2 linked regions of the Homo sapiens genome follow. The protein of the gene in region 1 interacts with the protein of each later gene in a biochemical or structural test. Each region holds a gene or a part of one and is shown on either strand. Other genes may lie near its edges.

Region 1 (3,500 bases):
GTCGACTCACCTTCAAATTTTCAATTTTGGCCTGCTTTTGGCTGCTTCTCATTGTCTTTAGGTAGTTATTTTTCATACTTGTTCAGGGTTTATGGCATTTACGTTGAAAGGCTTGTCTAGGAGGACATAATTCTCTAGTATCAAAATGAATCCTCTCTACAGGCTCTTTTGCACTTTGCTTTTTCTCATCCTATCCTGGAGATCTTCCATATCAAAATATTCAGATCTCATTCTGCATAAAATTGCATTGCACGCATTTGTACTGATTTATTTAACCAGTCCCCATTTTGGTCATTTCCTGGTTTTAGTTAATGCCATACAAACAAATGCTATGGAAATATCTTTACATGTATCTACTGTACGTAAGCAAGTATGCCATTCCATATTTTTTCTGATTGCAACTAAAAACATATTTGATTCCTCCTTTTGTGTATATTTTATACAATAGAAAAAGAAGGCTGAGCACAGTGGCTCACACCTGTAATCCCAGTACTTTGTGAGGCCAAGGCAGGAGAATCGCTTGAGCCCAGTTCAAGACTAGCCTGGGCAACACAGCAAGACCCCATCTCTACAAAGAAAGTTAGCTGGGCAGGGTGGCACATGCCTGTAGTTCCAGCTACTTGGGAGGACTGCTTGAGGAACACTTGAACACAGGAGTTCAAGGCTGCAGCGACCTATGATCATACCACTACACTGCAGCCTGGGTGACAGAGCAAGACCCCAATTCTTAAAAAAAAAAAAAAAAAGTACAAGATTAGACACTACTTTAGGTACTACTAGGACAGTGATGTGAAGACTTACCTAAGTTTAACAAATAGTCTCAAAGTAGTTTAATAATTTTGGGCGGGGCTATAGCTAAGTCATAGCAAAACATTTAAAACAATCCATGTGCTAAGTAGCAGTCACTACCTAAGGCATAAGACATCCTCAAAATCTATGTATCATCTAAGGCTATAATAAAAAAAATTAAAATGTCAGTATGTATAAAATTAATCACTTGCAGAAGTGAGAAAGTATCAGTAAACCAGACGGCTGAGGAGATTCAGAAGGGTAAGTTGAATCAAGGTGACTGATATGAAGCCTTTCGGACATGATGGTAACTAATGACCTAAAACTAACACCTAACAAATTATAGTAAGATGGCTGAAACTAAAACCTACGTAATGGTATTGTACACCATGTTTAAAAAAAGAGTATTCACAAAGGTGATGATTTACATGGGGCCCAGAAAAGGCATCCAATAAGTAAAAAATGAATGCTCATCCAAAACTGTCTGAAAGATACCACGAGATCTGGTAGATGCAAACATTCTAATTACCAGCAAGATATACAATGTTGGATTTCAGGTGTGTATATACACGCATAGTATATTGCTTTTTCAAAGCTTATATAAAAGATCCCTAAAATCCATTTGCCCCATTTTCATGCTTACCCAGTGATCTCATTACTATTTTAGCTTTAAATCAAGAAAAAGGCATCCAACATATTCAGGCCTACCAATGTAAATGAACTAGTACTCTGACTTACCTGTCTCTAAGTTTGGTTACCATGAGTCAATTATCAAGATCCTGATAAACACTAGAAATAAAATTCAAGTTATCTGATCCATAAAATCCTAGGATGTACTAATTAAACTACTATTAAGAGATCTTGCTTAGATAGCTAATTGGCATCCTTTTCTAACAACTTTGTATGTAAAAGGTTTAAGTATAAAAGGAGCTTTTTTTTTTAAGCTGCAGCTTGCAATTTACAAAAAATGTATTTTTAAATAAACCATTTTAAATCTGAAATTTATATTACAGATATTTTTCTCACTTACCTTTTTCTTTGTCCACCCTAATGACAACCACACACTCATTCCTGCCAATTCGGATGAGTTTGTTGATAGAACGGATACGCCTTCTGGATAATTCACTAAGAAGAATCATGCCTTCAATGTTGTTGTATTCCAGCAAGCTGACATAAGCCCCCATTTCAGCAATGGATCTGACATTCACCATCACTACATCTTCCACCTCAGGAAATTTGTGTTGATAAAATCTACAACTTAGACCCGGCATTCTGCAATTTAAACAAAAGAATTAAGTAAGTATTCAGTTAAGGTGAAAATAAAAAAAAAATCAATTTCCACATCCTGCCACTGAAAGAAAAGATGAAGAAAAAAATAGTTATTAGTCTTAGTCTTCTCATCCTTTGAAACTTCTTAAGTGGTACCAGAAAACAGATAATGTTCAGGAACCAAGCTTTAATTTTTATTTTGCTCAACATTTTTGTAATGCTTGGGTGATTCTCTGCCTTTAGTTTCAGAGGAATCATAAAAAATAATGACCATCTATAAAGTACTCCAAGACCTAAGGATTAAAGGAATACCTCAAGAGTAAAATACTACTTTAAGGCATATCAAATGATGGGAAGCATCACTATTATAACTAATCAGAAAACTAAAGCTACTCTTTGCCGAAGTGAGCAAACATTGTATACGCTACCACTCACTATATAAAGGAAAAAATTTTCTACCTAAACCCTAACCAATATACCAAATGATACATTCTGTCATTTATTATAGCCAAAATTACAGTGTCACATGTCAAAACAACAAAAACTAAAAAAATTTTAATCACAAAATAAACTAAAATGCATCCTCCTCTCATAATTCTTTTTCCTTGAATTCACAATGTCTAGCTTCTCTTATCCCCAATACTCCCAAATATTCCTTTCTTTTATTGAATAGGTATACCTAATCTTGAGAATAGCTTTAATCTCCATTACTACAAAGTTCAAGTTTCTCTTAACCTCCAAGCATTAAAGATATTTACAATTATTCCCTTTGATCCACCCAACCTACTTTCAGCACTACTCCTTTTATGATCCACAAGCCTGAAATCATAGCCTGGGTAGAAGCATATTTAAAAAAGGAAGCTCTCAAACTAATCATGGCTGATGATTTTCATGTTTTTCTGTTAACCTTCACTGTTGTCACTGCTCAAAACGTAGGTAGTAACAGAACTTAAAGGCCTAAGAAAACCTTGTGAAAATTCATATAATAACTTATTAATTGGCACCTGCCTATATCTTCTCAGTGGCTTCCCACTGACTTATGTATCTTTCCACTACCTACAGAATCCTATATGATCTGGCCATTGCCTATCTCCTTGTGGTACAACTTTCTCCCTAGTTCTCCCCATTTTATAGATTAAAAAACTGAAGCACAGGTTAAGTTACTTGTTCTTTCACATACTGCTAACAGGTGATGAGTCAGGATTTGAATCCATGAAGTCTGGATCCAGAGTCTGTCCTCTTATCAGTAAGACTATATTCTCTCAAAACTATTCATAAATATATTATAATTAGAAACATTTTACTTAAAAAGCAACATTAATATATATTCAGTGCCAGAGTACATAACACCAATAAGTGCAAACTATTAGTACTCATCTGTTTGACAACAAAGAGCAGCATATTAATGACAGTAGCAGAGATGTATTTCTTTGTAGGGAATA
Region 2 (3,500 bases), on another chromosome or scaffold:
GTAATTTTTTTTAAAGGAAGCTTTTATACTTAAAATGAAACCATACCCTCCTCTCTGAAATTGAACTCTTTCTTGGCATATTCAGTTCTAAATTTTAGAGATCAGACAACTACTACAAGTAAGCACACAGGCTGAAGAGAGGAGTTTGTGGTTCACTACATTGTTCTAAATTTGTAGACCACCCACCATATGCCAAGCACTAAGAGTACAAAAACATTGAAATATCATCTTAAGTACCCTCAGGACTTAAAGCTAGTGTGTGCTCTCCATAGGAAAACATAAGGGCTAAAGAAACTTCTTAGAGTAGGCCCTGGCTGACCCAAGCCTCTCTTGAAATGAGTCAAGATTAACCTGGCAGAAAAGTTAAAGAAGAAGCTTGTCATATTTGGGAAGCAGAAGAAAGTTTGCTGGAGCGAGAAATGTTGGCAGAAGCTGAAACAAGAAGCTTCAATGTGTCCACAAAGCTTTGGGAAAACATTAATGGGTTTCTTTTTGTTTGTTTGTTTTTTTAAAGCAGCATGGTTTCATTTATGTTTCCGAAAGACCATTCATCCTTTATCATGGAGAATGGCTAAGAGATAGACAAGATGGAGGATTAGAATACTATTTAGTAGACCATTAGACCATCTATGTGGAATTAATGAGAGCCTGTACAAAAGTAATGGCTAGATGAAAAGCTTAATGATTGCTTTTTTTTTTTTTTTTTTTTTTGAGATGGAGTCTTTCTCTGTCGCCCAGGCTGGAGTGCAGTGGTGAAATCTCGACTCACTGCAACCTCCGTCTCCTGGGTTCAAGCAATTCTCCTGCCTCAGCCTCCTGAGTAGCTGGGATTACAGGCACCAGCCACCACGCCCGGCTAATTTTTGTATTTTTAGTAGAGACAGGTTTTCACCATGTTGGCTAGGCTGATTTTGAACTCATGACCCCAAGTGATCTGCCCGCCTCGGCCTCCCAAAGTGCTGGAATTACAGGTGTGAGCTACCACTCCCAGCCAATGATTACATTTATAAGGTAAAATAACTTGTGCCAATCTGTACAAGTGAATTCAGATTTAAAATTTTAATTGTAAAAAGATATCCAGGTGATATTTCTCCCTGAATAATTTAGTTTCCTTTTCTATTTCTTGATATAAAAGTACTCAGCATTGAAGTAATTGCTATCTTCACATTTCTTCCTATTTGAGCTGTCTAAATAGTAGTCCTACATATTTTCCCACCCAACACAAAAAACCCAGAAAAGAATTATTTTATACTGGATTTTTTTGTTGTAGCAGGAAGCCTAGAGGTGCAATTGTAACATGCATGTTCTTTTGGCAAACTCTATCTTAAAGGAAATTTCTTGAATTGCTATCATGACTTGGCAATATTTTTATTTAATGAGACATATATTTTTAAGATCTTAAGTATATTGAAAATTAATGTGTTCTCTGTTTTGGCCACACACACACAAAATGCCATCACAGATCCTTTTAGTCTGGGGATGTTTTTCAGAGGCCTTGCTCAAGGTCTACACTGATCTGTCTATCTACACCATTCTGTTTCACCCCTCTAGAGACTACTCTCATGAATGTTTGTGAGAGAGGTTGGGAGGACAATCTTGGCAGTTTTAAATTCTTGATATGAAGATAAATGACTCATGAGGCATAAACTGATTCCATAAACTGATTCCTCAACAGCATGTTCAGACAAACTCTTTCCATTTTCACCTGCTAAAAAGTAACTGGAGTTGCAAGTAATAACACTGAATGCATGAAGAAAATAATATCCAAAGCAGAAATCATCCCCACTTAATTCGCATGGGATTGCTCTTATTACTATTCTGTCATCTGTGAGAAGAACCAATACTTTTTCCATTCATTTAAAGCAGCCTGTTTCCTAAATATAATTGATAGACTTAAAATTGCTTCCTGATAAAGTAACAACCCGCAATTTTGCACAAGGTTTTAGTTCCCATTACAGTCTAGTTTCATGCAATTGCGGTTGCCACATGGAGTTTCATATTCCACCTTCTTAATTGGCACACCCAATACTTTAAAAGCAATTCTAGCAGCTTCAGGCACTCAAAATTTCCATTTTCATCATTTCATCCAAGGCTTTGATAAGGAAGAATCATCAAAATGAGTGTTAAAATTCATCACTTGGCAAAGTACTACTCCATCACTTATAAAAACATGTTTTTATTATTTATTTATTTTATTTATTTATTTATTTATTTATATTATTTATTATTATTATTTATTTATTATTATTATTATTATTATTCCATTCTTTTCAATTAGCAAATAAAAACTTCAAAAGAAAGCAAAAGAAAGACTAAAGATATTGTCCAGTCTAATATTAAAGGTGTCTCTGACAACTTCAAAATAAACGTTATAAAAACTTTACTGTACTGTTTTTTTTTTACTTCTAAAAAATACTTGAATAATGTCCATTTAAAAAAAAAGCCAGAGAAAGCCCAGGAAAAGGTATATTAATTACATAACACAAGATAACAAAAATAAGTTGTTTAAGTCACTTATTTGAAAGAGAGAGCATCCCTAGAGGAGACAGCTTTGTGATTTGTATCTTCTAAGTTCCTACATTCTAGCCTGAAGTATTTGGATAGACTAAAAGCATAATCTAGGAAAGAAAAGCAACCAATAGAGAATTTTCTTCAAGAAATCAATTAGAGAAAAACGGAATCTGAATTCAGCCAAATTCACCACCAGCTCTTAGCAAAGATTAAAGACAGGAGCATCAAGGCAGGATATAAGAAATTGCTCTAAAGGAAACAGATTTTATCACATACAGCTGGTTAAGGGCTCAAAGCCAACTGCACGTATTAACTGAACTTCTGAATAATTATAATACAACTAACAAATACCAAATATATATTTTTTTATATATTGGCCAAATTCTATCCTTAAGCCGTTCTGACTCTTCAATACCTACACTCTGCATGAAAACCTGCCTAAGCCAATGAGTTCATGAAAGGTTTTCTTTTTTCTATCTTTTTGTTTGTAGTGTATAAAGCTTGCAATAGATTTTAAAGAGCCTGTTCTATCAACTTATAGATTTCAACTAACTCAATACAGATTTCAACTAACCAAAGATAAGCTCTAAAACTAAGTTTATTTCAGTACTTAGCATGAGCTCATTGACGGTGAAATTGGCCATTTATACATAGGCAAATCTATAAGGAAATTAACAATATTTCACATTTCTTCTAATTAATGGTCTTTTTGTGAACATGCACTGCCTACTAATGTCAGCTTATCTATGATTTGAATGTATAGCTTTCTAAAGCGTAGCAATTTTTTTGCATATTTATGTGTCCTAAGAGAGTCCCCCCGCTTCATTTTTCCATCTCTCAGCCTCATGAAAGGCTACCTCTATCTAGAATTTGTGACAGAGGAAGCTGAGTTTTGTGGTTGATTGTATCTTCCTGGTTACAATCTAGAACTATCAGAGTTTTGCAATGATAGTAACAGCAATGACTAACCCTTGCTTGGAATAATAGCC

Evidence for each region. Proteins that work in one complex are often made in the same cells at the same time.
Region 2: the proteins of EIF2S1 (region 1) and ANXA1 interact in a test that uses a peptide from one of them, tested with the Homo sapiens proteins (one large-scale study listed by BioGRID).

What each region holds. Positions count from the first base shown.
Region 1 is NC_000014.9:67,363,328-67,366,827, reverse strand, and holds part of EIF2S1 (eukaryotic translation initiation factor 2 subunit 1), read right to left. Parts: intron 2,062-3,500; 5' UTR 2,061-2,061; coding exon 1,820-2,060; intron 1-1,819. UniProt on the Homo sapiens protein: Member of the eIF2 complex that functions in the early steps of protein synthesis by forming a ternary complex with GTP and initiator tRNA. This complex binds to a 40S ribosomal subunit, followed by mRNA binding to form a 43S pre-initiation complex (43S PIC).
Region 2 is NC_000009.12:73,154,865-73,158,364, reverse strand, and holds part of ANXA1 (annexin A1), read right to left. Parts: intron 1-3,500. UniProt on the Homo sapiens protein: Plays important roles in the innate immune response as effector of glucocorticoid-mediated responses and regulator of the inflammatory process. Has anti-inflammatory activity.